Homo sapiens: one gene and its partners. The protein of the gene in region 2 interacts with the protein of the main gene of each other region in a pairwise test. Each region holds a gene or a part of one and is shown on either strand. Other genes may lie near its edges.

The links.
Region 1: the proteins of ITGB4 (region 2) and COL17A1 interact in a two-hybrid assay, tested with the Homo sapiens proteins (one study listed by BioGRID).
Region 3: the proteins of ITGB4 (region 2) and SDC3 interact in a two-hybrid assay, tested with the Homo sapiens proteins (one study listed by BioGRID).

The regions. Positions count from the first base shown.
Region 1 is NC_000010.11:104,026,952-104,034,281, reverse strand, and holds the end of COL17A1 (collagen alpha-1(XVII) chain), read left to right. Parts: coding exon 1-337; intron 338-906; coding exon 907-1,044; intron 1,045-1,313; coding exon 1,314-1,376; intron 1,377-1,527; coding exon 1,528-1,608; intron 1,609-1,991; coding exon 1,992-2,047; 3' UTR 2,048-2,996; downstream 2,997-7,330. UniProt on the Homo sapiens protein: May play a role in the integrity of hemidesmosome and the attachment of basal keratinocytes to the underlying basement membrane. The 120 kDa linear IgA disease antigen is an anchoring filament component involved in dermal-epidermal cohesion.
Region 2 is NC_000017.11:75,722,014-75,731,731, forward strand, and holds part of ITGB4 (integrin beta-4 isoform 1 precursor), read left to right. Parts: intron 1-265; exon of another isoform or gene 266-414; coding exon of another isoform or gene 415-509; intron 510-2,680; coding exon of another isoform or gene 2,681-2,690; coding exon 2,691-2,769; intron 2,770-5,181; coding exon 5,182-5,264; intron 5,265-5,390; coding exon 5,391-5,492; intron 5,493-5,637; coding exon 5,638-5,842; intron 5,843-6,363; coding exon 6,364-6,460; intron 6,461-7,251; coding exon 7,252-7,423; intron 7,424-8,227; coding exon 8,228-8,491; intron 8,492-8,861; coding exon 8,862-8,951; intron 8,952-9,232; coding exon 9,233-9,355; intron 9,356-9,718. UniProt on the Homo sapiens protein: Integrin alpha-6/beta-4 is a receptor for laminin. Plays a critical structural role in the hemidesmosome of epithelial cells. Is required for the regulation of keratinocyte polarity and motility.
Region 3 is NC_000001.11:30,903,974-30,916,127, forward strand, and holds the start of SDC3 (syndecan-3), read right to left. Parts: upstream 4,786-12,154; 5' UTR 4,614-4,785; coding exon 4,476-4,613; intron 1-4,475. UniProt on the Homo sapiens protein: Cell surface proteoglycan that may bear heparan sulfate. May have a role in the organization of cell shape by affecting the actin cytoskeleton, possibly by transferring signals from the cell surface in a sugar-dependent mechanism.

The DNA of each region.
Region 1 (7,330 bases), on a different chromosome or scaffold from region 2:
GGACCCCCTGGGGACAGCCGCCTCCTGTCCACGGATGCCTCCCACAGTCGGGGTAGCAGCTCCTCCTCACACAGCTCATCTGTCAGGCGGGGCAGCTCCTACAGCTCTTCCATGAGCACAGGAGGAGGTGGTGCAGGCTCCCTGGGTGCAGGCGGTGCCTTTGGTGAAGCTGCAGGAGACAGGGGTCCCTATGGCACTGACATCGGCCCAGGCGGAGGCTATGGGGCAGCAGCAGAAGGCGGCATGTATGCTGGCAATGGCGGACTATTGGGAGCTGACTTTGCTGGAGATCTGGATTACAATGAGCTGGCTGTGAGGGTGTCAGAGAGCATGCAGCGTAAGTGGGGACATTTAGGCCTTGGTGCTGGGGGGAAGGAGCGTGGGAGCATCTCCAGACTGGCTTTCTTGTTTGTGGAACCCCCAGGCTGTGAAGACAGAATCAAGCAGGCAGGGGCTGGAGGGGACAGGCAGCCCCAGCCTAGCTCTCAGCCTACTCAGCTTAAGGAGCCCCAGTCCTGGGACCCGAGCTGTGGGGAACAGAGCACGCTGGGGGCTTTGTACTTTGTTTTCCCAACACCTAGCTCGTTCTGGGTCCCAGATGAGTCATATGACCATGCTGGATTTTCTGCTGGGGCCGAGAGAAGGATGTTGGCTAAGAGTCCTTTCCCCGCGCAGCTTAACGGCACAGTTACGCAGTCAACAAGCTTTTGATGCCGGCCCACAGCAGGAAGAGACCTGTGCCAGTCACACAGTGGAATACAAAGGAAGTTGGAGGGCTTCACCCTTGCTGCGGCTTGATCTAGTTCAACTGCTTTGGGAGTTTGACACTCGGAGGGCACTGTGCTCCTGCTGAAGAGGGTACTGGGAGATCCCTGCTTCCTGTGCCCAAGCTCTGGTGTTTTACAGGTCAGGGCCTACTGCAAGGGATGGCCTACACTGTCCAGGGCCCACCAGGCCAGCCTGGGCCACAGGGGCCACCCGGCATCAGCAAGGTCTTCTCTGCCTACAGCAACGTGACTGCGGACCTCATGGACTTCTTCCAAAGTAAGGGCATCCAACTGCTTTCCCAGCACCTGCCTCACTGCATAGGTTCCCACGGGTCTGCTCCAGAGACACCAGTCTCATGAGAAATCTCCAGTTATTAACATTTGAGATGCTCAAAATTAGACAAATTCTATAAATTCTGAACTTTGTTTCCTCTTACACGTCCAAACTCCATCACTATCTCTCTGTGTTACTCTGAACAAATGACTTGATGTCCCAAGCTTCCAGGTGATCAAGACTCTAAGGCCAGTGTTTCCTTGCTTTTGCAGCTTATGGAGCCATTCAAGGACCCCCTGGGCAAAAAGGAGAGATGGGCACTCCAGGACCCAAAGGTAAGTGGTGGCAGAGAGCCAGTCCCTGGATCCTGTGTTAACACCCACCTCGTACTGAAAAGCAGCTCCTGTGCTGGTGCCACACCGGCTACCTGTGCCCTCAGTCCCCAGACTCATGTATTACTTAGTTACGCCCCATTTTTCCTTCCAGGTGACAGGGGCCCTGCTGGGCCACCAGGTCATCCTGGGCCACCTGGCCCTCGAGGACACAAGGGAGAAAAAGGAGACAAAGGTAAGTGTTGACTGCTCCACGTTTTGCATGTTCTGGAGGGCTGCAAGGCTGACGCTCATTAGAGAAGCAGGTGATTTGTTCCAGAGCAAGCCTGAGAAATTCAGGCAAATGCCAATTACTCCAGGCAGACACTGCCAAAAGCAGAATTTGCATAACAATCCCATTCACAGTGAGGAAGAAAAGGAGAGTGTCAAAGCAGGGAGGAAAAGGAGAACCAAGCTGGTGTTGAAATGGGGCAAACAAGTTAAATAAATGTAGTCTTACAAAAGATTTCACCTTTGAAGCCATCTTTGCAGTAGTCACGGTTGCCATAATTGCCCAAGCCAAGATCCCCACAGGCCACAAGATATGTTTTAACTTCCTACTGATCTTCTAACTTTCAGGTGACCAAGTCTATGCTGGGCGGAGAAGGAGAAGAAGTATTGCTGTCAAGCCGTGAGCTAGCCATGGCAGGACAGCTCCTGGACCAGGTCTCATAATGCATGTGGCACTTAGGTCCAAGGTCTCCAGAGGGTGAAAGCTGGAGTCTGTCAATGTCCTACTGAGACAGCACAGCCAACCTAGCTAGCAACATTTGTTTTAGTCTGAACAATATATACTTATAGAATTCAGTCAAAGATACACAATCTGAAACAGCTTCATGGGGTGGACTCTAACAGTAGTTGCAATGTTTTAGAATGAGACTTACTTCTCTGCTATCTAGATCTGAACTCCTTGGCTTCTTTACTTAGTTCAAGCCCCAGCCTAGGAAAGCCAGTTACATAAAAGTTGGCTCAGGAGTCTTAGAGCTTTACCTAAATATGAGCCCAGAAAACGGAGGATGGGGGTGGGGCGCCTTCCTGGAGGTGACACTTGATGGGGGTGTGTTCTGGTTACTGTTCTAAGGCTGTGCCATCAGCTCCTTCCTCCCCTGTTCATTCTGCATTCTCTAGTCAGTTGGCTAAGAAGTGACTCTTGCAACTAAAAAAATTAAGAAATTCACTTCCCCTCTAGGAGGTGATGATAGGGTTTCTAATGGTTATATGTATATCACATTCCCATTTGCTTAGAAAGTCTGATTGTAGCTATGATTGTCCGTAGGCCCATACTAGAGTTCATGGATATGTTATACTGAACCAGGCCAGAGCAAACAGAAAAAGAAGGTTGAGGGCAATGGACAAGGAAGGAATAAAGGGAGAAGAGGGAAAACAGAAAACCTGATGCTGGGGACACAGCATCAGCTCAAGACGTCACCCTCCATTCTGCACTCAGAAAATGGCACTTGGGGGACTGGGCGCAGTTGGTCTTTAACCACTTTTCAATGTCTAAAAACATTTGTTTGTGGTCTATAAGATGAAACATCATTTCAATCGTAAAATTTCCCATTAAAGAAGTTTTTTTTTCTAATATCATGTTTAATGTGATTCGTCTGACCAAAGAAAGATTAAAAAATAGTCTGGGTTAATTGGGTCTGATTCTAACACTGTTTATTACAAACACAAGAAAACAAAAGTGGTTGTATTTTGGGGCATAGCTTCTGGTATTTCATTCAATCCCTGAGGTCTTCAAAGGCAAATCTTTAGATACCTGCAACTATGAACTCAATCTGGGGATTTTACAAAGCACATGAAAGTTTTCCCCAAGCATAAGTTATTTGAAATAAACATGCAACAAATGAGCAAGAAGATTACTTGCAATTAGGTAGTGCTTTATCCTGGGGCAATGGAATTATGATTGTAGGGCAAGTAATATATGGAATATAGAAACTTCTATTAAAGAAAAATGTACAAATCTCAAATGCCCCAAAGAAATGCACAGTAAAATCAGACACTCCAATTGAGAAGAGACTCTACTTAGCCACTTTGTGAATTTGTTACAAGTTGTGACTCTCAAATTGCTGGATAATTAAAAATGGGATTAAATTGCATCTATTTCTACACCACTACTCTTCTAAAAAGACTTTATTTTCCATAAGGTCTCTGCTGAGTATCTCATATTATCCCAGAAAAAACACTCCACTTGTTTCCTCTATATCAAACAACCGCTAACGGCAACAACCAGTCAAGCACTACACACTCTACGTGGTCTTTTTGCCTCTTTTATTATATCCTGATAATTGCCTGCTATGAATTAATGAGAATTTTTTAAAAATAAGGCTGGGCGCGGTGGCTCATGCCTGTAATCCCAGAATTTCGGGAGGCCGAGGCGGGCAGATTGCTTAAGCCCAGGAGTTCGAGACCAGCCTGAGCAACATGGCAAAACCCCATCTCTACTAAAAATACAAAAAAATTAGCCGGCATGGTGGCGGGCACCTGTGATCCCAGCTACTCGGGAGGCTGAGGCTGAAGAATCACTTGAACCCAGGAGGTGAAGGTTGCAGTGAGCTGAGAACGTGCCACTGCACTCCAGCCGGCAAGACTCCATCTCAAAAAATAAAACAAAAATAAAATAAAAATTAGTTCATACAGCCTCCAGATTTCAAACAACTTGAGTTTTACTAAGCAAAACTATTGTGTATAATAAAGGAATTGTGCTTTTTAAATAATTTTTTTTCAAAAGAATTCATTAGTTTTACCCAAAGGCTGAATTTTTTACTTTTTAATTGTAGCTTTTACACTTATTAAAAGTAACTTCCAAAAAAAGGGGGGAAAAAGATGTTTTGACCCTTTAAAAAAAAGTAGCTTTAGGGGTTCAAGTATTATATCCCCTTTAATAGTGATCCTTATCTTGATTAATCAAGACATAGGAGTTTTTTCCTTGTTACTAGATCTACCTAAGATACCCAAAGTCTTCATCAAGTTTTAGCTCAAGTAAAATAGGGTACAAGTCCAAACTTACTACCTTCTCTGGACAAAACTCAGAAAGAGGATGGGCAGATATGAGGTTATGTCCTCAGCTGGATGGCAATGGATGTTAGCCTCTTTTGTTTCATTTTTTTTTTTTAAGTCAAGAATGAGCTCAATAGTGCACAACGCTCCCAGATTAGAAAATGACACTCCATGCCTCCCTCCAGCTGGACACGTGCCGAGTGATGCTGCCTAGCGTCTACTGAATCTTGCATGAACGTTATCAATGACGAAGAGACTATTTTTGCAGAAGTGAGGTCATATGATTTGTGAAATGCTTGGTGAGAAAAATCATCCATCCCAAGAGGAAAAGAAATTAAAAACATACACATATATACATAGGCTGATAGAAATATTTTAAGCACCTCCCAAAGGAGGGGTTTGCATTCTGAAAGACAACCCCCAGCAAGTTATCACTAAAAACTACATTTGAGTGTGTGTGTGTTTGCGTGTATGCTGTGGACTACACACAGCTAGGAATACTAACTCTGGAAGGGTCAGAAGACCTGCGGGGACTGCAAGTTTTACAATATAACTAGGACCAACAACTGCAAAGTGTTCTCAGGCAGGACACTCCAGTTTCAAAGATTCTCAATAAAAGACTGCTTCCCAAAATTGATTAAGAAATAACTTTATTTTTCATGTGTCAATCCCATGATTGAAAAGACATGTTGCTCTCAAGTAGATAAGAGGCATAATCTTAAACAAAATTCTTTCTGAAAATTTAGCTTATGAACTCATTACACTGCAAACCAGAGAAGGAGCACAAAAAGCTGCAGCCCACATTGAAACCTGGCAAACACTCTCCGCCAAAATTAGTAGCAGGAATGTTAAAGCTTTATCAAAAACATGTCAGCAACGGAATAGCAACAATACAGCCATTAACTGTTGTGCCTTCAACTTAAGAAAAGCATTTAAAGAATCACCCCATTTCTTATAAAAATCATTTCTCAGAAAAGAATTGTTAATCAAAAGACTATTAGAACTGGAACTCTCTTCTTTCACTTCAGTTCTAGATTTTCTTTAATCAACAATATCTCTAGTTAATACTTGGACAGAATTTGGCTTCTCAGAAGAGTCTTTGTCATTTAAGCACAGTGTGGAATGGGAAAAAGTGTATAGTTACAAGGAAACTAGAAGAGTACAAAAAAATAGTCACTTCTGAAACTCGCTGATGCTCAAGAAATCAGAGACCCTTCATTAAGGTGGGTCTCATATGCCTGAGAGCTTTGTGCTTGAGGAAGTATGACTTAGAGGTAGCTCTGGTTCTGGTAATTTATATTTAATTATAATTTGCTGTATCCTGTCACAAGAGAGTTCTAATATTTTCAGCAAAGTAAAAGCATTCAACATTTTTTCCTTACCCACCCTATAGCTTCCCCATAGAAAAAGATAAGAAAAAGCTTAATGTGACTCCACATAGAATAGCAGCTAATTCAGCAATTCGCACTGTATGGTTGTTGACAGGACTAGGAAAGGCAGCCTAGTGCCCCAAGCTGTAGGAGCTGGATCTGCAGAAGTGTGCAGGTCTGCTGTGTTCACAGCACTCAGGGAAAGAGGGGAGGAGGTGGCTGATGAGGGTGCACGTTCGGAGAAGTCTGTATGTGTTTCATGGCATATTCTGCCACAGCAACAAAACAACCAAATCAGCAGTAGATTTGACTGTACCCTTCGATTTCAAAGAAGTCTGCGCCCCTCGCCCACTCGCCACCTACACTTCATGCAGGAAAGATAGATCACTATCATCTATTTGAATACAGGGCCTCAGAAGAGGTGGGCTGGTATGGGTACAAACAGCGTATTTTATAACAAAACACTTTTTGAAAAGATTTATATAACTTTAAGTATTAAAATGAATGCTTTACCTCTACATATGTATCACTGTACAGTCTTGCACCCACACGATTATGGTCATATTTGAAAGCGAACTCAAGCACAAACACTGAATCCAAAAGGCAGTTTTAAGGGAGATCCAACCTTACCCACAGCGCCAACCATTCCACTCTGAGCCTCTCTCCTTGAGTCAATAATCTGAATGTCAAGTTGAAAGGAACAGAAAGAATCAAATATTCAGACCAAATTAATCAGGCACCACACACTATTTAGCGCACAGGGTATCAATTAAATGATACTAGAAAAAAAATGTCTACTGCCTGAGGTATTCATTTTTTAAAAGTCAATAAACTGAAAATTTCAAAGGAGAAAGTGGTATGAAGACGTTCCTTCCCAATCCCTCTTCAAATAAATCATTAAATACACTGGGCAACATTATACTGTCATTTTTATCATAACAATATAAACAATTTTTATCATCATCCTGAATATTACTTTATAAAGATATATATTTTAAAAGGCTTTCAAAACATTTTTCAACCCAGCATTTGAGAATAAAGCATTAAGAGTTTTGTATACAGTAACACATTCATGTGATAAGTGTATGAATTTACAACCATACATAATATGTATATATGTATATATATTTATATAAAAAACAAACTTGGCCAGAAGTTAAGGCTACCTACGAAGTTGTCCAAGTAAATTATGCTTGTCAAAACAATTATAAAATTCAAATCACACATGCATTTTTAAATCATCTAAATCACTGACAAACAAGGTTCAGCATCCAAAGTTTTCAAATTAACTGCAAGAAAGTGCTACAGACATTTACATTTTCTAAATATGAATCAGTGTTCCCACAAAGTTACATTTAAATTTTTCACCAGCCTCAAAAGTAATATAACTGAAAACAAACTTTCACAATTTGGTACCTAGCACTCTTAAGAGAGAATAGGTTGAAAATGGCAGGCAGCAAGCATCATTCACAAATGTGCTGTCTCAGACAGCAAAGTACAGTTTATAATACTGTCTGACCTGACACGTGGTTGAAATTCTAAGCC
Region 2 (9,718 bases):
TTTCGTTCTTTCTAACATTGGCTCCTACTTTTAAAAGCCACCCTGAGAGGCAGACGCCATCCCGGCTCCAGGCAGGGCTTGCTCTATGCGGTGCCACAGTCCATCTGGGGCTGGGGAGTCCCTGATTTTCCTTTTCTCTTGGCCAAGCACAGGCCTGCCTTCCTCCCAAAGTCAGCCCCAGGCGCCTTCCTTCAGGAAGCTCTACAGGCCTCACCCACCAGCCCCAGGGCTGTGCCCAACACTGCCACCTCCTGCAGCATCCGCCCTCTTTCCCATGGCTCAGCCTCTGGGGTGGCCCTCTGGCTGGGACTGGGGCTCTGGGGCTCCTGGTGACTCCCAGGAGCAGGGACAGGGCTTCTCCTCTGCCCCCATGGCCTTGCCACACCCTGAGGACAAGGACCAGGCACAGGTGGCATGGTTGTTGCTGTCCGAAACAGAGCTGGCAGTGAAGGCTTGGAGTCTCCATCCTGGGGGCTGAGGGAAGGACAGCAGGAGGGACAGGAGGGGAGGTATGTCTGTCTACTCGACCCTGATTTCTCAGGGAGACAGAACAGCCAAGGGCCTGGGGTCCCCAGACTTCTGGCCAGCTGCCTCTCTGGGGCGAGGAAGGGCCTGGGTCCCTGAGGGGAGGAGATGTGACAGCGGGAGAGGATAGTGGACAGGAGCAGGTGTGCCCAGAGGGGTCCCCAGGGGTTGGGATGGGGGCCAGGGGAGCTCTGAGCCTGTGGGTGGGTGGGCATGGCCTGTGTGTGTGTGTGTGTGTGTGTGTGTGTGTGTGTCCCTGTGGGGGGGAAACTGCCTGTGCTGCAGTGTGATGGCATTCAGGGTGGCAGTCACACACTCCAGGGACCTGCTGGTACATAAAGTCGGGGCAGCCTGGTGGGGTCCGGGCCGCCTGGAGAGTAGGTGTCCTGAGCGCTGGGCCCAGCCCATCGTGATACATCTAATGATAAACACAAATTCCTAACTTTTATGGGAAATCTCGTTGTTTCTAACATTGGCTCCTACTTTTAAAACTTTCTAAACAAATGAAGCCAAACACTCTTGGGTGCCTCGCCAACCCTCTAACTGCCATTTTGTAGCTTCTGCGTGGAGGCTGCCATGGAGGTTAAAGGCAGGGCCTGCAGAGCAGGGCCCTGTCCTGGCCCTCCCAGTGCTGTCCGCGGGATGGGGAAGTTCCACAGCCTTCTGTGCCTGGTCTCTCATCTGGGAAACGGGCAGAATGAAATCATCTCCCGCCGGGCTCCTGTGCTGAGCAATCTCCTCCGTGAAGCCCTGGGCTCATATGGCAGTCACAGTGTGGGAATCAGCACTGCCTGAGGGGCTGTGGCCAGGGACAGTGGGAGGAAGAGCTGGGCTCAGCTCTCCAGGCCTGTACCTGCCTGTGTAATGATGCCTGGGAGGCCTGAGCCTGCAGCCTGTATTGTGTAGCATGTGGGTGTGGCGGCTACACCCCGAGGCTGCAAGGAAGTCATTTCCCTCTAGGAACCCTGCTGTCCCCACCCTTTCCCTGCTGGCTCAGGGCTGCCTCCCAGTCCCTGTGCCACAACAGGTCTGACCTGCATGTGTTGGCGCTGCTGTGGCCTCCTCCAGGCTGCACGCCTTAGAAGCAGGCTACGCCTTCCTGCCCTTGGCCTGAGAAGGGCTTCTCCAGCACCTCGGGGACCCCAGCCCCCAGACCCTGGGGTGGCCACTGCCCCAGAAGCCGGGCTGAGACAGGATTCAATGGGGAGGGCCCGTGGGCAGGGCAGAGGCTTGGGCCCCTGGGAGACCTGGCCCTAGAGAAAGAGGCGCGGTGCTCACCTTTGCCCCGGCCTTGCAGGCCTGGATGGCTCTGCCGCCAGCCTCTTTTCTTGTCCAGGCTTCAGGCTGAGCATCTCTTAGAGGGCCTCAGGGATGTCCAGTCCTGCCCTGAAGGCCGCTGAGGACTTAGGATGGTTTAATACTGAACCCACAGCCGCTGGGGACGCCTTGAGGGGAGCCACAGTGTGTGTGCATGTCTCACTCTGGGCTAACTTGTGAAAGGGTGAACAGCTCAGGGGCCCAGAAAACTTAACTCTGGGGCAGGCAGAGGTACAGGGGAGGGCAGATGATTCAGACCCCACCCTGATGGGCCGGGCAGTCACTGCAGAACCCAACCCGGTGCAGTAAGCCACTGCGGGCAGCTGTGGCCCAGCCCCAGGCCCCAGATATTGGGAGGGGCCCCTCTCCTCCCGGCTGTGCCACCCTCACCAAAGGGTAAGTGGGCCAGGACAGAAGGAGCAGGAGGCAGAGCTGCGGCCCCCTCTCAGGGAGGCACCCTCATTGGATGACCCTGTCATGGCCAAGCCTGACCCAGGCTCACTGGGAGCTAAAAGGCAAAGAAGAATAAACCCACATCTGCCCTCAGGGAGCCCAGTGCTGAGAGGCCTGGCACTGGGACAAACTCGCAAACCAGAGTCCTTGAGGGCTGGAGGGGGCCTCCCGGGGCAGGGCATAGGCCACTGCAGGGATGGCACGGAACAGGGCAGCGGAAAAGGCAGGAGTCCGAGGCCCAGGGCCCTGCCTCTGGCGGCTGGGCGCCCTTGGTCACATTGTTGGTGCTCAGAGCCTCAGTTCCCACAGCTGTGCAGCGAGAGGAAGCTGACGGCACCGACCATGGCTGTGGAGGCCTCATGTGTCAATTGTTGCTGTTCTGCAGGAGGAAGAGGATGGCAGGGCCACGCCCCAGCCCATGGGCCAGGCTGCTCCTGGCAGCCTTGATCAGCGTCAGCCTCTCTGGGACCTTGGGTGAGTCCACGTTGCCCTGCAGCCCCCTCCTGGCAGGATCATCCCTTGGGCAGGCATTGCCCTTGCACGGGGATCTCACGGTGTCTCACCTAAACACGCTTGGCCATTCAGCAACTGACCACTGCCCACCTTCAGGGCTGGAAAACTTGAGGCTCCAAGCTCTTCAGCCTAGAGAAGCTTGAGCCCTGACCACGGGGCCTGAGAATAGGAGCGAAGGAGGCTGTGTCTAGAGGAAAGAGGAGACACCCACCCAGGACTGAGGCACCCAGAGGATGCACTGAGGCCCCAGAGGTGTAGTCAAGAGGGTTATAGGAATTTGGAGAAGAGAGGCACTGCTGACGTGTCACTTGCTCTCTGAGTGTCACTAGTGGACAAATCACTGGAGCCAGCTCCTACCACTTGAATTTTGTCTGTTAGAGGGGGTCCTGCTGGTGGCTTGAAATAGACCACGACAGAAATGTTTACACCACAGAAATTGGCAAACGCTACACGTCAAGCACCAGAGACCAGAGCCGTTGTTATTTTTTTATTTAATTCAATGTATATGTAGAAACATGCTCTCACTCTGTCGTCCCGGTGAAATGCAGTGATGCCATCGTGGCTCACTGCAGCCTCAACTTCCCAGGCTCAAGCAATCCTCCCACCTTAGCCTCCCATGTAGCTAGGACCACAGGCATGCACCACCATGCCTGGCTAATTAAAAACAATTTTTTTGTAGAGACAGTCTCACTATGTTACCCAGGCTGGTCTCAAACTCCTGAGCTTAAGCAATCTTCCTACCTCGGCTTCCCAAAGTGCTGGGATTACAGGTGTGAGCCATCGCACTGGCCACCACAGCCATTGTTAAACACTGACCAGCACACCATTGCCTGAAGCCCAGGAGACCTCTTACTGTGTACACCAGGTGCACACAGTAGGTCCTCACTGTGATTTTTAACTGAGCAGAGCCAAAGGGAAATCTAGAGTTTTACTTCATTCGTTACTGAGGACCCACTGTGTGCCAGGTGTGCCGGGTGCTAGGGCTACCGTGATAAACAAGACACCATTCCCTTCACCCTAGAAGGGGCTCAGAGGACAGACAGGCCATGTGGCAGTGGTCTCGCCGTGAGGCACAAGCTGTGATGGAGGAGGTACCTGAAAAGGGTGCTAGGTGCAGCTCATCAAAGGTAATGGGGAAGGCTGAGGACCGTCTGGCTGGACCTGAGGAGGCAGCAGGCCAGGGGGTGGCCAGGGTGTGCCAGCACCGAGTGTGCCAGTGCCACTGTCTCAGTCCCCACCTTCTGTCCTTCTGGCTTGAGTGGGAAGTCCCAGGTTTGAAATCACAGCTTGTTTCTAGCTGTGCTACCTGGGGCAGATCACATACCCCTGGCCTCTGTAAAATAGGGAACGGCTGGGTGCAGTGGCTCACGCCTATAATTCCCAGCACTTTGGGAGGCCAAGGTGGGAGGATCTCCTGAACCCAGGAATATGAGACCATCCTGAGCAACATAGGGAGCCCCTGTCTCTACATAAAATAAAAAATTAGCTGGGCTACTTGGGAGGCTGAGGTGGGAGGATTGCCTGAGCCCAGGATGTCGAGACTGCAGTGAGCTGTGATCATGCCACTGCACTCCAGCCTGGGCGACACAGCAAGACCGTATCTCAAAACTAAATAAAATTGAAATGCAGGTTGGGCACAGTAGCTCACGCCTGTAATCCCAGCACTTTGGGAGGCTGAGGCGGGCAGATGATTTGAGGTCAGGAGTTCGAGACCAGCCTAGCCAACATGGTGGAACCCCATCTCTACTAAAAATACAAAAATTAGCCAGGCATGGTGGTGCCCACCCATTATCCCAGCTACTCGGGAGGCTGAGGCAGGAGAATCACTTGAACCTGGGAGGCGGAGGTTGAAGTGAGCTGAGATCGCACCACTGCACTCCAGCCTGGGCAACAGAGCAAGACTCGTCTGAAAAATAAAGTAAAACAAAATAAAAATACAACAACAACAACAAACCAAAATAAATACATAAGGCCGGGCCCGGTGGCTCCCACCTGTAATCCCAGCACTTTGGAAGGCCAAGGCGGGTGGATCACAAGGTCAGGAGATCGAGACCATCCTGGCTAACACGGTGAAACCCTGTCTCTACTAAAAATACAAAAAATTAGCCGGGCGTGGTGGCGGGCGCCTGTAGTCTCAGCTACTCCAGAGGCTGAGGTGGGAGAATGGCGTGAACACGGGTGGTGGAGCTTGCAGTGAGCCAGGATCACGCCACTGCACTCCAGCCTGGGCAACAGAGCGAGACTCTGTCTCAAAATAAATAAATAAATAACATAAGGAGGGAATCCCCATCTCTCCAGGTGAAGGTGCAGGTGGGAAAGTGCTTGCCTTTGCTGAGCGCCTCCCCATTCATGTGCCCACATCTGTCCCCCCAGCAAACCGCTGCAAGAAGGCCCCAGTGAAGAGCTGCACGGAGTGTGTCCGTGTGGATAAGGACTGCGCCTACTGCACAGACGAGGTGAGGACCTGGCCCGGGTTGGTGTGGAACAGGCAAGGGTCGGGAATAGCTGGTGGAAATGAATCTAGGGTTGGGGCAGCCAGGGAATGGGTGCTGCCCCCAGTGACCCCCTGTCCTTCTGGCCAGATGTTCAGGGACCGGCGCTGCAACACCCAGGCGGAGCTGCTGGCCGCGGGCTGCCAGCGGGAGAGCATCGTGGTCATGGAGAGCAGCTTCCAAATCACAGAGGTGCCTGGTGTGGGGACTGGGGTGGGGGCTCCCCATGCTCAGCCTGGCTATTTATGGGGGTGTATAGTGCCCCTTGGCCGGGCTGGGCCCCCATCGGGCCTCCGGAGTGACCCTCTAGCCAGCTGTCCCCTTCCACTGGCTGCAGGAGACCCAGATTGACACCACCCTGCGGCGCAGCCAGATGTCCCCCCAAGGCCTGCGGGTCCGTCTGCGGCCCGGTGAGGAGCGGCATTTTGAGCTGGAGGTGTTTGAGCCACTGGAGAGCCCCGTGGACCTGTACATCCTCATGGACTTCTCCAACTCCATGTCCGATGATCTGGACAACCTCAAGAAGATGGGGCAGAACCTGGGTACGGCAGGGCCAGAGTGGAGGACAGCAGGGCAGGAGGGGGACAGGTGGGCGTCTGCTTGGGAGGCCAGGACTCAGGACAGCTGCACCCACCCAGAAGGAAACACTGGACATTTGAGCCCCCAAAAACCTTCCCTTCCATTCTCAAGGGAAGAATCTCGGTCAGACCCTACTCACCACTGGGGACTTCTGAGAAGGCCCAGGGCAGGCGGGCAGTGGAGCCATCTGGCCCTGACAAGGAGGGCACCCCCTGCCACGAGGCTGTGGGGAAGCTTCTGCTCCTCAGAGCTGGGCTGCATTCCCAGCCACCCTGCCCTTGCTGTACGCATAACTCCAGACCCCCAGTCCCATTTCCCTCATCCATAAATAGGAACAGACAATGTTGTGAGCATGAACCTTTGTCCAGCATGCAAAGCGTTAACCTCCCTCTTCCTCCCTTCTGAGCCAGCCCTTGGTGGGGGGCCCGTGTTTATGCCAGGCATCAGGGCTCAGCTATCCCCTCTCTGTCCTTTTGACATCCAGCTCGGGTCCTGAGCCAGCTCACCAGCGACTACACTATTGGATTTGGCAAGTTTGTGGACAAAGTCAGCGTCCCGCAGACGGACATGAGGCCTGAGAAGTAAGTGACTGTGTGGGTCCCGCAGGTGGGCAAGGGTCCAGGCCATGTGACCCCCACTCCTCTTTCACCCACAACTTAAAATTATCCTTCTACGGCTGGGCACGGTGGCTCATGCCTGTAATCCCAGCACTTTGGGAGACCAGGGCGGGCAGATCACCTGAGGTCAGAAGTTCAAGACCAGCCTGGGCAACATGGCAAAACCCCATCTCTACTAAAAAATACAAAAATTGGCTGGGCGCGGTGGTTCACGCCTGTAATCCTAGCACTTTGGGAGGCCAAGGCGGGTGGATCACGAGGTCAGGAGATCGAGACCATCCTGGCTAACACGGTGAAACCCCGTCTCTACTAAAAATACAAAAGATTAGCCAGGCGTGATGGTGGGCACCGGTAGTCCCAGCTACTCGGGAGGCTGAGGCAGGAGAATGGCGTGAACCCGGGAGGCGGAGCTTGCAATGAGCCAGGATTGCGCCACTGCACTCCAGCCTGGGCGACAGAATGAGACTCTGTCTCAACAAAAAAAAAAAAAAAAAAAAAATTAGCCAGGTGTGGTGGTGGGCGCCTGTAATTCCAGCTACTTGGGAGGCTGAGGCAGGAGAATCACTTGAACCCAGGAGGCAGAGGTTGCAGTGAGCCAAGATCGTGCATACCGCACACCAGCCTGGGTGATAAAGCGAGACTTGGTCTCAAAAAAAAAAAAAAAAATTCTCCTTCTAGTTGAAACGAGCCAGGGGCACTGGGGTCTGCGGCGTCTTCCCCCTGTGACACTCTCTCTCCCTCCCACCTCTGCCCAGGCTGAAGGAGCCCTGGCCCAACAGTGACCCCCCCTTCTCCTTCAAGAACGTCATCAGCCTGACAGAAGATGTGGATGAGTTCCGGAATAAACTGCAGGGAGAGCGGATCTCAGGCAACCTGGATGCTCCTGAGGGCGGCTTCGATGCCATCCTGCAGACAGCTGTGTGCACGGTGGGCACTGGGAAGGGTGCTGCCAGCCTAGGCCAGGGGTGAGCACTTCTGGGCAAGGGCCTGAGCTGCCCCCTGGCCTGCTCTGGTGCCAGGCTCACAGGCCCTGAGGGAAAGCCTGGGAGCCTGCAACCCCTTCACCCTGAGACAAGCTCAGACTCTGTGAGTAGGTCTCAGTTACAATCTGAGTTCAGATGTGCCTGGAGCCACGGTCCCCTGGCCTGAGCAGTCACAGCCTGGTTTCGTATCAGCTACCAAGGCAGACCTGGGCTTTAGCGTTCTGGAATCTTTAGTACCCTGAACCCACCAGCTGCCCAGACTCCACCTGTTCTGGGCATCCAAATAAGCCATTTCCTTTGATATGTACATCCATTTGTTCATTCTGAAAATGACATACCCATATTACTAGGTTAGAAAACAAAGAGCTAGCCAAGGCGTGGTGGCTCACACCTGTAATCCCAGCACTTTGGGAGGCCGAGGCGGGGGGATTGCTTGAATTCAGGATTTGAGACCAGCCTGGGAAACATGGCAAGACCCTGTCTCTACAGAAAACACAAAAATTAGCTGGGTGTGATGCACGCCTGTGGCCCCAGCGCCTTGCGGGGGCCGCATCTCCAGCTCCTGTTTCTCAGCGTTGTCACTCAGTCATGTGCCGTCAGATGCATCTTTCATGAGGGCACTTGCTGTGAATCCAGTGGCTTAAGCCCAGCCCCATGTTGGGACCCGCGTTCCCCGTCCTACACGACGCCGTGATGCGTGTCAGCAGGCAGCCTGCTCAGTGGGCACGCCCCGCCTTGCCTTCCCCAGAGGGACATTGGCTGGCGCCCGGACAGCACCCACCTGCTGGTCTTCTCCACCGAGTCAGCCTTCCACTATGAGGCTGATGGCGCCAACGTGCTGGCTGGCATCATGAGCCGCAACGATGAACGGTGCCACCTGGACACCACGGGCACCTACACCCAGTACAGGACACAGGACTACCCGTCGGTGCCCACCCTGGTGCGCCTGCTCGCCAAGCACAACATCATCCCCATCTTTGCTGTCACCAACTACTCCTATAGCTACTACGAGGTGCGGGGCCCAGGTCCCACGGGTGGGAGGTGGTCAAGGTAGGGGGTCCATGGAGCTTCTCAGACACCTCTCCCTCCCTCCCTCCCTCCCTCCCTCCCTTCCTCCCTTCCTCCCTCCCTCTTTTCCTCCCTTTCCTTCCTCCCTTCCCAAAGCCTTTAGACCCCCCAAAATGTGGGCCCTAGTGGGAAGGGGAGGTCATGTGCCCATCTTCCACCCCAACTCCCAAGCAGGTGGGGGCTAAGAGGGCAGGCTCTGCGACACCACAGTAGGTTCCAGGCCTCAGTTTCCCCATCCTCAAAGTGGGAAGAATCCTAGAGCTGTTCAGATTCATGGAGATGCTTAGCCTGAGACCTGGCCTTCTCTCCCGCAGAAGCTTCACACCTATTTCCCTGTCTCCTCACTGGGGGTGCTGCAGGAGGACTCGTCCAACATCGTGGAGCTGCTGGAGGAGGCCTTCAATGTGAGGGCAGCTCAGGCTCCAGAGTCTGAGCCCTTCTGGGGCAGGGCAGGAAGTGGGCAGGGTGGGCAAGAGGTGTCTTGGATCACGGTGGAGAAATGGGTCTGGGACAGACCAGTGAGGAAGGGTCTCTAGCTATCCCTGAGGCCCCGAGGGGCCACCTGGGCCTGGCCCTGGCTCCTGCAGGCTCTGTGATACCCCGCATGATGCCAGCCACACTTGGAGGTTGGGGTGGAGCACAGAGGCCCCCCACAGAGCACTGATCAACCTCCTTCCTCCTTTAGCGGATCCGCTCCAACCTGGACATCCGGGCCCTAGACAGCCCCCGAGGCCTTCGGACAGAGGTCACCTCCAAGATGTTCCAGAAGACGAGGACTGGGTCCTTTCACATCCGGCGGGGGGAAGTGGTACGCCTCTGTGGGGGCAGCGGGGTGGGGGATAGGCACAGCGCCCCACACCGAGTGGAATCGTTTAAAACAGCGGTCAAGAGCGTGGCCCCTGGAGTCAGGCAGGCCTGGGTGCAGATCCCTGGGCCTAGCCGCTCGGATGAGCCTAGGTTGCTCCTCTGCTTGTTGGTTTCCTCGGCATGCAAGCGTCGAGCCCGGAGGCTTGCTGGGGCAGTAAATGGGTTAGTGTCACGAAGCCCAGAGGCCCTGGCCACTGTCATTGTCGCTATGATTGTGACTGCGCTGGGAAGGAGGGAGTTTCCAGCCCTGAGGGAGGTGAGCAGGAGCTCATTTCAGGGATCCAGACATCTCCTAGGAACTTGG
Region 3 (12,154 bases), on a different chromosome or scaffold from region 2:
AGCACTTTGCGGGGGCCGAGGTGGGAAGATCACTTGAGGTCAGGTGTTCGAGAACAGCCTGGGCAACATGGTGAAACCCCATCTCTACTAAAAATACAAAAATTAGGCAGGTGTGGTGTCAGGTGCCTGTAATCCCAGCTACTTGGGAGGCTGAGGTGGGAGAATCGCTTGTACTCAGGAGGCAGAGGTTGCAGTGAGCCAGGATCATACCACCACACTCCAGCCTTGGCGATAGAGACTCTGTCTCTAAATAAAATAAAATACTAAAATGAGGATTCTAATAATTCCTACATCAAAAAATTATTGTAAGGATGAAATAAGCCGATACATGTAAAGTGCTTGGTGGGCGGGGCTCTCGGTAAACATGACCTCTCTCTCCCACTTGGGATGAGCCCCCCCTCGCTCTCCCCACCACTGCCACCACTCCTGCTGCCCCGGACCCCCCAGGGACCCTATGCCCGCTTGTATGAGGTGGGAGGAGCCACTGGGTTTCAAAAGGCCATTTTTTTTGTTTTTTGTTTGTTGTTTTCTTTCACTTTTTTTTCCAGCACAGCTCACCTCGCACCAACCCCCAACACACTGAACTCACAGCTGGAGGCATTGTGCTCACTCCTCCCCAGAGAGCAGGAGGCTTCAGGTTCAAATCCCAGCCCTGCCTTGAGGATAGAGTCACAGCCCCCAGTAGTGATTCTAAAAGCCAAGTATTTGTTGCCCCCAGTTGACAGGTAAGAAAGCTGAGGGTCAGGGCAGGTTACAGCCTGCTACTGTCATGTGATGACCACTTTCATTGCTTAGCTCAAAACCCTCCTCCTCCAGGAAGCCTTCCCTGACCCCATCCATGCTCCCTCCCAGAAAGGTCCCATCTCCTGAGAGCTCACTACGTGGCAGGTGTGCTCGGTCTACTCAAGCAGCTCATTTCCAAGTCACAACATCCCTGTGAGGCTGACACCATTACTGTCCGCATTTTATAGACAAGGACTTTGAGACAGAAAGAAATCCCTCACTGGAAATCACACAGCAGGTGTCTGTCCCCAGAGCCCCTGGTACCTTGGGAGCTAACAGGCAGCATACAGCTGTGGTGTCCCTGTGCCTGTCCCCCAAATGCTGGAAGGGGAGATGGTTCACCCAAGAGCCTGGCCCAGAACAGCCCAGGGGCCCCCAACTTTCCATTTTTTTGGTGAGGACTATCTCATCCTGGAAACCCAAGGCTCACAGTCACCCAGGGGAGCCTGGAGGGGAGAAGAGCAGGGATGCTTGAAACAGGGTGAGGAAGGAACGGAAACCACCAGGCCTGGGGCTGAGCTTCAAAAGAATTCCCTACTAATTCCCCCACCCCACCCCACCCCCACCCCCACCCCCATCCGTACTCTCTCTCTCTCACAAACACACACACACACACACACACACACACACACGTCTCCCACCCTTCCACTCCCCACCCCTCCTGCCTTCCCAACCACAGTACAGCAACTTTGTAAAAGAACAAGAAATCCATATTTGTTGAGCCCTTAGTAGGTGCCAGCCACTGGGCTAAAAGCTTTCCAAATTAAGCCCTTCCATTCTCGCATTGTCTCCATTTTAAAGAGGTGGAAACTAAGGCACAGAGAGGTTAGGTAACTTTCACAAGGTCACACAGCCACAAGGTAGTGGTCTCCCATCACTGGGAGTATTCAAACAAGACTAACACCTAAGATCCCTTCCAGCCCTGGACTTTTGAAAGAACATGTTTCAAAAGCTAAAATGTTCAGGATCCTCACACTCCAAAACTTTGAGTGGTGACTTAAGTACAGTAGCTGAGGTGGCCTTAAAGGCAGATGTCCCTCAGAGTCCTGGTAACTTGGTCTGTCAGAAGAGGGACTCCTCAAAGGAGATGCCAGGAGACAGACACAGACACACAAACACACACACACACACACACTGCAATTCACCATCTGCAGTGTGAATGAGGCCTGCTCTCCCTGCTATCCCCATGCTGAAAGACACGAAGACACACACACACACACACACACACACACAAAGGCTGGCAGGTGACCCAAGGGTCATCATGTCCCTGCCCTTCCCTGCCCTGTGCCAGCCACCGCTCATCTACCAAGGCCACCCCTGGAGCTTCCCTGGCTGGGGCTCTTCTGATCTAACCTCAGTCCCTCCTGCTGCAGGCACTGCCCTCTCCCTCTGGTGCGGAACCCCGGCAACCAGGTACCACCCATTAACCCTTTTCCTCCCAAGTCAGATGAGGACAAGAGGGATGATGCCCCTCCTTGACAGCTTGACCCATGGGAAGATGTGAGGCCTGGAGGACACTCCACTTCCCACCACCTCACCAGGCGCCCCAGTACCTGCCCTCCCCCAGGCCCCACCCACCATTTCAGCCTCTGGGCTCAGACTCCCAGGGTCTGCTTGATCTGCCACCCAACACTGGGTCTGAGCCACACCTCTCAGATTCAGGTCACCCGTGTTGCGAGGCCCTACTGTGCATGAGGCTATTAAATGCTCTCACTAAGTCCTTCCACCACCTCGTGGAGTATGAATTATTAGCCTTATTCAGCAAGGAAAGTGGCCTGCCCAGCGCTCCACCTGGCCTCCAAGTCTAAAGCTTTCTGTCCTGAGCCCCTTTCATTCATGTGCACACCACATGACTCCTGAGCTCCTTCTCAGGACACTCGTCAGTCATCCCATTGAATTTTTGCCCTCTGAGGAAGGGGTCATTAGCCCCATTTCACAGAGGGACAACCAAGGGTCAGAGAAGTAAGAGGACCTGCCCAAACCATGCCACGAATCGGCGGGGGTAGCAGGATTGGAACCCAGGGTTGTGTGATTCCCAAGCCTTTGATTTTAAGGATGGTCTTTCAGAAATTTGGCTGAGAAGGCGACCCCAGCTGCTAGGGTGTGCTGGGTCTCTATCCCTCCCAGGGACCTCTTCCTCTCACCCCACTTAGGGGAGAGCTGGGAATGAGACATCCTGGCCAGCAGGCACTTCACACAGGTCAGCCCTCAACACTTCCCCTCCCTCCAGCTGACAGCCCCCTAGATGGGGAAGGCTGAGGAGGGGCCTGTCCATCCAAGAAGCAAGCTTGGAGCCCCTGCCTGTCCTCCTCCTGTCTTACTGACTGGCCCACTGAGGCTGGGAAAGGGAAGGAACTTGCAGAGGGCGGCTGGGCACCCAGTGTTGCTTGAGAGGCCTGGGTCCTTTTCAGCCTGGGGGATGCAGGACAGCATAGCTCCTGGAACCAACCTGGGAGGCTGGACCTAGAAATCCCCAGCCCGCCTGAGCCAGAACCTGGACACTTGTCCAACAAGAACTCATCTGGGGCCTGGATCCCTCAAAGGGGGATGAGGTCCTTCCTTTCTCTGCCATCCCTGACGGAGCTGGGACCAAGCATGGCTGCTACGGTCACTCAAAGGGACACTCAAGGGTCACCTCATACATACCATCACCTCCACCTGCACATGCTTGGTTCCCCTCAGGGGTCCTCGTCCTATGTCCAGGGTCCCCCATGCACCTGCATGCACACGCTGCTATGTGCACTCACACACATTCATGGGTCCAAGCACACGCCCACCAGAGGTCTTTCACACACACACCCTCACCCACTGCAGCCACACACGGCCATAGCCAACAGTGGCCCAGCCAGGCACAGGCACACATCATGCACAATGGGTCACCCTCCCACGACCACGGACGGGAGGGCACGCTGGCATCCACCCATGTGGCAGACACATCCTTCACCTGCACACGCCCCACAGGTCCCCGCACCCCTCACTGAGTTGGCCACACACGCCCACACACGCCCACACACAGGGTTACCCTCACTCCCCCCTCAGGTCACCTTCACCAAGTCACCCTCCACCTCCACCTCCCCTTCCCGGGCCCACTGCCCTGGCCGGCTGCCGCGACCCTGGGAAGAACCAAATGCACACCCTCCCCTCGGAAGGGGAACCGATCCGATTCCCAAAAAGTGGCCATGGTCTGGGCACACCCACGAGGCAAAAGCCAGGCTCACTCCCACCCCAAGACACACCCAGCCGGGACGGCGACCCCCAGCCCGCCGCCGGGTCCTTCTCGCGCCTCCCAGGCCAGCGCAGGGGTCCCGCTTCGTCCCCGGGGAGACAGTTCCCGGAGCCACTGGGAGGTGGGGGAACAGGGCTGAGGACCCGCGATCGGGTTCCCTCCCGGGATTCCCTCTGGGGAGGGGTCCCAAAAGGAAGGAGAGATGCGCCCCCCGAAGATGACCAGCGGCGGGGGCGGCCTCTCCCCGCGGATGCCAGCTAGGGGGAGATTCCGGAGGGGGGGGAGCAGGGTGCAGAAAGGGGCGCTCGGGGGAGGGTCGAGGGGTGGCAGGGACCGCGGCCCCGGGGGAAGCAGCCGGGGGGGAGGGAGCGGGGTCCCGGAGGGGGGGTCGCGGGCGGGGACCGGCACCCCGCGCGGGGGGCGGCCCCGGGGAGCCGTGGCGGGGATCCGGGCGCGTGTCACTCACCCCCGCGGCGCGCCCCGCCAGCAGCAGCAGCAGCAGCGGTGGCAGGAGCAGCCCGCGGGCCCCGGGCCCGGCCGCGGCCCCGGCCCCGGCGCCGGCCCCGTGGGCGGCCCCGGCACGGTGCGGCGGCCCCGGCTTCATGGCGGCGGCGCGGGCGCGGGCGGCGGGCGGCGGGCGGGCGCCTTTGTTCCCGAGGCGCGGCGCGCGGGGCGGCTGCTTGGCGGCGGCGCGGCCCGGCGGCTGGACCGACGCGCTCTAGGCTCGCGGGCTCCCGGCTCGGCCGCCCGGCTCCGCCTCGCAGCTCCGCGCCCACAGCGGCCGCGCCCGCAGGAAGCGTGCGCCGCCGCCGCCGCCGCCGGGCCGCCCCCAGCGCGGGCGGAACGGAGGAGGGGCCCGGGGCGGGGCGGGCCCCAGTGCGCCCCCCGCGGGGCTCCGCGCCCTCTGACCCCAGTCCCAGCCCCCGCCCCCACCCAGAGGGAGCCCCGCGCTGCCGAGTGGGCACCCGGACACCTGAGTGAGCAGCCGGCCTCGCCGATCCCGGGGCTGGAGGTCGCGGAGCCCGCCGGACGCACCTCCGCGGCCGCCGTGCTAGGTAGAAGGGAAGGGTCCCGCGTGGGATACCAGGGCCCGGGCCTGGCTCCCTGAAGTCGCCGAGCGGAGGGGTCGCATGGGCGTTTTCATCTACAGCCTCCCCCTGTGGCTCCACGCACGTGTCTCTTCCTGGACTCCCATCGTCACCCTCACACACTCAGCCAGTCCACCCAGTGGGCCAGAGGTCATCCAAGACCACGGGCTTTCATGCCTCCAGGACACCCAGGGGCTGTGTGACCTCAGATCAGGGCCCGGCCCTCTCTGGGCCTCGGTCTCCCCAGGGGACCATGGGGGTGGTCACTTCTGGGCCCTGTCACTGTGGATCTGCAGAGGAAAAGCCACGCAGACCTGAGCGCAGCTGCTTCCACACCAGCTGTGCGCCTCCAGCAAGGCCCCCAGTTCTCTGAGACTCAGACCCCCCATGGTTGAATGGGACCACCCCCTCCAGTGCAGGATGGCGAGAAAAGTACATCTCTGAGTGGCAGTCTCTAGCGCTGGTGGTCTTTCTACCCTGTGTGGTCACGGTGCCTTTTCCCCCTTCACCTTCATCCCCAGCGGCATACCCCATGCTGTTCTTACTTCTCCAAGTCTCCAATGGCGTGTTAGCTCCAGCGGGGGCAGGGTTTTGTGTCTGTCTTGTTCACTGCTATGTCCCCAGCACCAGCACAGAGCTCGGCATGACATCGATGCTCAATCCAAATTTGCTGAATCAATGAATGTGTTTCCCATTTACTGGGGCTCAAAACCAAGTGTTTTGGGGCAAGATAGGGGAGAGTGAAACATTTCTGGAACCCTGACCACATGCCAGGTGCCCAGCGCTTTCATGTGTTATATCATTTCTCAGGAACCCCATAAGGTCGGTCTGTCAATATCTTCACTTCTTAGGTGGGGAAGCTGAGAGCCAGCAAGAAGAGGTTATTTGCTGATGACAGCTGGCTGGACGTCTCTACCCTCAGTTACTCTCCTCTCTGGCCCCTGTGTCCCAGCACCCAGCTTAGAGCCTGCCATTAGAAAATAGGAATGAAATCAGGCCGGTCGTGGTGGCTCACGCCTGTAATCCCACCACGTTGGGAGGCCGAGGCGGGTGGATCACGAGGTCAGGAGATCCTGGCCAACATGGTGAAACCCCGTCTCTACTAACAATACAAAAAAATTAGCCGGGCGTGGTGGCGGGCGCCTGTAGTCCCAGCTACCAGGAGGGTGAGGCAGGAGAATGGCATGAACCCGGGAGGCGGAGCTTGCAGTGAGCCGAGATCGCGCCACTGCACTCCAGCCTGGGCGACAGAGCGAGACTCCTTCTCAAAAACAAAAAAAAAAAAAAAAAGAAAAGAAAAGAAAATAGGGGAACGAAATTGAGTTGAAACTGGAACAATTCCCTCAAGGAAAGGGGAACCAAAACCAGGATGAATGGAGGGGCAGGCCTTGAGGAAGAGACTCTGGGGGACCAGCCATGGGTTTTTGGTGTTGGGGGTAACTGTACTTGTCCTGCAGGGCCCTTGGGAGGAGGACCAGGGGACAAAGGTCAACTCAACATAAAGTAGAGATAAATTAGAAGGGGCTCCCCAGGAGGGAGGGAGAGCCCAGTCCCTAAAGGGTATGAAAGGCAAGCTCACCACCCTTTGACAGGGATCCTGGACAGGGAAGACAGGGAGACTTTCGAACTAGGAATTCTGAGGTCCCAGCCTCTGAAAATTCAATTCTCAAATCTTTTGGCATGACATCAATGCTCGATCCAAATTTGACTGGCACCTTGGGGAGATGGGCAGGGAGGCTGATGGGGTGCAATAGGTGGGAAACTGGTTTCTGTTGAGGTAGCACAGCTTGGAATTGAAGAGCTCTGGCTCTGGGTCGGCCAAGTATCTGGGTTCAAATCCCAGTTCTGCCAGTTATGAGCTGTATTGTGTTGGATGTGTGACTTAACCTCTCTGAGCCTCAATTTCCCAACTGTAATATAGAGATAATGACCACGCAGAGTTCATTCATTCATTCATTTAGCAAGCATAAATTGGGTGCCTGCTGTGTGCCAGGCCAGGTACCAGGTTGTGAGGATTACATGAGCTCTTCCCTGCCATCGTAATGGAGTTCAATGAAGGTGGCTGGGAATGAAGCTTACAAAGGAAGGGACTCAGATGTAGGGATAACATCATCCTTCAGAGATGCTGAGCAGATCCCAGGAACATACCAACCCTGAGGCGCTCCCAAAGGGCCAGCAGGGTTAGGGTGGGGATTATGAGGAGCCAGATGTCAGCTGGCCACAGACAGCAGTGGCAATTCTAAGAGGCAGTAAGTATCCTGTCTTGAGAGGTATTCAAGGCTCGGAGAACTATCTAGCAGGGAGACCATTAGGATGGTTTCCATGAGTAAGATGGGCAGTGAGCATGGCCCATCTTCAGAGGTTCCTGCCAGCTCTGAGACTTCTGGAAGCAGCAACTCCACTTCCCTGACATCCTGGGGAAGAGGTGGGGGCGGGGCAGTGGAGAATCTTTGGTCTGGACAGGCCAGGAGCGCCACCTGCTGCTCTTCAAAGACACTGGTCACAGCCAGAACTAAGACAGGTCTGGGCCCCTGAAGGTCCTTCTCATCTTGCTCCCCCCGGGTCCCAGGTCTCCCTGGGGTTCACAGATGCACACATTTCCTGCCCTCAAGCACATGGGTCATCTGCACAGTCACCCTTGCCCAGGCCTCCTTGTGCATTGGAGCCACATCCCCACATACTCAGGGTCTCCCTTCATAGCACCATAACCTCACCCACAGGCACCAGCTGCTGCCGCCTCCTGGCACAATAGTCACAGCCCCCTCCGGCCTTTAGAATACACACTGCCTCCTCTGGGAAGTCTTCCTGATGTCCTCTGGGTGATCAGGCCTGGTCCTGTCCTGCCGGCATCCTGATCACACTCATCCTGCACTCCCCACCCTGCTTTCAGTCCCTACTGTCTGTCTTGCTCAAAAGTGGGAGCATTCAGTATCCCAAATGAACAGTAGCTATAGAAGGGCCCAAGTGGAGCTGATTATGGGCCAGGCACTGCTCTATCAAATGCACACTCACATTAGCCCCATTTCCAGATGAAAAACCAATACACAGAGAAGATAGGAGATATGCCGAGGCACCACGACTGGCAGTGAGAGCTGAGATCCTGACCCAGGCCAACAGTTAAACTGCAATGCCAGGCCCAGTGGTGTATTGGGAGGCGTTTGATGAATGAATTAGAGTCACCGAGGGGATTCACACAGTCACACACCAACATGCAGACATACTCATGCAGTCTGGCCCCTGGGGAACCCCACAAGGCACGCCTAGTGGCTACATCTCAACCTTTCCACCTCACCCCCACCCCAGTCAGAGCCTTCTCTGCCCTTGACAGGGCCTCCTAGCTCTAACCAAGCAGCAGAGGGGTGGGGACGCCTCAGCGGCATCTCTGAACTCCACTCAGGTGAGCCTAAGATGCCTTATTCAGAGTGGCACGCCCAGGCCTGACACAGAGTGGGTGCTCAGTAGCTGTCACCTGACTCTACCTGTCCCCCAGGGGATTGGCTAAGACAACCAGCTCTCTGGACCTCAACAGTCCCATGGCATCCTAAAAGCCAAGATTGATGGAGGCCTTACTACCTGCCAGGCACTGTTCTGAGCACTTGCCAAACACACCCTCATCTACTCCTCCCCACAGGCCTGTAATTTGGGCACGACAAGCAAACTTGCCTCCCAGGGCTGCTACTATGAGAACCAAATGAGCGGCCAGCCCTGGAGTCCGGCACACAGTGAGCCCTGTCCAGGTGCTTGCTCTCTACTTCGTCCCATTTCACAGCTGGGGAATCTGGGGCTCACAGGAGTTCAATAATTTATCCCAGGTCACCCAGCCAGGAAGTGGGCAGCCAGGATTTGAACCAGGCATGTGATGACAGAGCCCTGGCTTTTCACCCTGTGCTGAGCTGTCCCCCGTGGGCAGAGGGGACTTTATGATCCTTACCAGACCTCCCAAACACAAGTGCTGTCTCAGCTCAAGGCAATCACAGGGCTTGCAAAACAAGTCCCGGCCTCCCCTCGCCACCCCCATCTCCATCCTGCTCCCTCCCCACCCCAACCATCTCCCACCACAACTTCCGGTCTTGCCCAAGAGTCAGGATGGAGGCCACAGCCCAGGCTTGCTTCTGAGAAAGTCCAAGTGACAGCAGTCTTGGAGGTCAGTGACCCCCAAAACTGAGGAACCAAAACAGGGCTCTGACAAGAGGGCTCCAGATCAGGAGGATCCCAAAGTCCTCCTAGGGGAAGCTGGGGAGACTCAGAAGCCATCTGGTGCCCCAGTGAGTGGAAATCTCACTGGGGAAGGATCTGCAAGGCCTGTGGCCGGACCAGGGTGACTGGGAGAAGGCTTGGCCTTCCCACAACAGGGGTCCTCAATCGTGGGGAGCCTCCTGCCCGCCGAAGGGACCTGGCCCATATGAGGGTCTCACAGAGCCATGCCCCGCCCTTAGTACAGAGCCAGGCTCGGCCAGCCTTCCCTGACCTCCCTGTGTGCTGGGAAAGTCCTTGTAGGGTGAGAGGGTAGGTGACACCCCAGGACACATGGCTGCTAGACACAGGTTAGGATTTGAACTCAGGCCTCTTCCAGGTCTGTGAGCTGAGGGTTTGCAAACTGTAGATCCCAAAGCGTTCCTGAGGGCTGGTGGATCCCCAGGTTCCTCAGGGCTGGTGTGCGAGGAGGGGGAGTAATCAGATTTTGTTTGAGCTCTGTGGCCTGTAGGTCACAGAGCAAGGCCTGGGCTGGCCTTGTAGGAGGGAAGAGGCTGTGTAGACTCAGCAGGGCCTGTGGCTGAAGAAGCCCCAGATTGGCAGTCGGGGAGGGGAGCTGCTTGAGGGGAGAGGAGAGCTCTGGGACTCCAAGCTGGGTAGGGGTGGAAACAAGGTGGGTCCCACCTCTGTAGGGTCTGAAGCTTATACGGTTTGAAGGGATCTCGAGTACACAGTTAGGAAGAAGGCTTTGGAAAGCGGCTGTGCAAATGAAGGGCCCTGAAGCATCAGCTTCATTTTATGGCAAATGTGCCTCTGAATGGCCACCCACCACCCCGCCAGATACTATCGCCTGAATCCAGCAAAGTCAGAGGTGGACTGGGCTGGGCGTTGGCTCACGCCTGTAATCGTAGCACGTTGGGAGGCTAGGGAGGGCAGATCACTTGAGCTCAGAAGTTCAAGACCAGCCTGGGCAACATGGCAAAACCCCATCTCTAAAAAAAAATAACAAAACAAAACAAAAGAAAAAAAACACGAGCCGGTTGTGGTAGTGGGCACCTGTGGTCTCAGCTACTCAGGAGGCTGAGGCAGGAGGACCACTTGAACCTGGGAGGCAGAGGTTGCAGTGAGCTGAGATCATGCCACTGCACTCCACCCTGGGCAACAGAGCAAGATCTTGTCCCACAAAAACAAAGGAAAAAACAGAGGGAGCCTGGGCAGGGAATGGCTACCTCCTCTCTGAGGGAATCTAGGAAGGCTTCATGGTGGTGGTGGCGACATCTCCCCTGGGCCATTGCAGGCAGGCCTTGGAGAATTGGGTGCTTTGAAATGGTCCTACAGGGGCTGAGCCCTACCTGGGAGGAGAGCCTCTAAGGCCCTGAGCTCCAGCTTGAGGCTTCATCCTGACATCGTGTGTGGACGAGGCTGAGAACATTCTGGAGGCTTGTTCCCTGTGATCTAGAATGGACAGAGCAGGCAGGGCCTACTTTAACTGCCCATTTCATAGAAGAGAATACTGAGGCCTTAAAACGGAATGTGACTGACCCCAAGGTCACATAATAAGCCTGTGGCAGAGCTGGGACTAGAACCCAGGTGGCTTCACTCCTTGCCCTGGGGCCTTTCTCTCTTCCACTCCCTTCTCCTGGACCAGCTGCTCTGTTTTGACAGAGCTCTTAGGATAAGCCCCCTCCCCAACCAAGGTCTTCATTCAAACCCACAGGCCGTCCCACTCTGTCCATCGAAGGTCACAGGACTAGGAAATGACCATTGGCAGAGCCCAGGCCCAGGAGCTGTGCTCACACACCTGCCCTCTTCTCTGTGCAGAGGTGGAGAAGCTGGGTGAGGAGAGAGGAGGGGAGGAGAGAGAAAGGGGAGGATGGGAGGAGGGCACTGCCCCAGAAGCCATTCCAGGAACACACCCCCGTGCCTGGGAATAAACTGCTCATTTAGAATCATTTTCCTGGAACCAAAAATATGCCTCCCTAAAAATATATTTTCTTTCTCACCTCATTCTGAGGCTGCAGCAGCTCAGCTGCCTCTAGGAGGTGGGTGGGGGAGAGTGACCGGGGCCTGTGGGGGGAGATCCCCCTTTCCCCAGGGCTGTGGATACTGACCACTGGGTCCCCCTCTCTGAGCACAGCTGTCATTGAGATATGCAGTACATCACATTTGTGTGTGTGTTTGGTTTTTTGGATTTTCGAGACTGTTGGACCCACATTCAAACTTCAACCTAGAGGTATCGAGCCCCAGCGAGGGCTGGGCACAGATCTGGACACTGAGGGAGCTCCCACCAAGGATGGGAGGCAGGCAACAGGCAAGCAACTGCACCAGGGGACACCTTAGTGCTGCCCTCGCCTCCTGTGTGCCTCTGAGCAGGTGCTTCTCCCACCCTGGGCCTCAGTCTCGTCATCTGCGAAGGGATCAGATGCGGGTAGCCACCCTGAATTCTCTGCGGACAGTCCTGCCGCTGGCCATGGTGGAGGGGAAGAGCAGCTGCCCTGGCAGCACTGACTCCAAAGAGAGGCCTGGGGCACTCGGGGCTCAAATTCTGGGTCTGCCACTTCCAGGCCAGTGGCCAGGGCCATTTTCCTCCCATGCAAGTTAGGGTCAGTGACGGCTCACAAGGCTGGAGGGAGGCAAACAAAGCAACACAGGACAGCACCCAGCATAGGGCAAGGCCCACAGTCACATGGAGCAGACCACTGTGTTTTTGTTGTTGTTATTTTTAGAGACAGGGTCTCACTCTGTTGTCCAGGCTGAAGTGCAGTGGCACAATCACAGCTCACTGCAGCCTCTATCTCCTGGGATCGAGAGATCCTCCTGCCTCAGCCTCTGGAGTAGCTGGAACTATGGTGGGCCACCACAC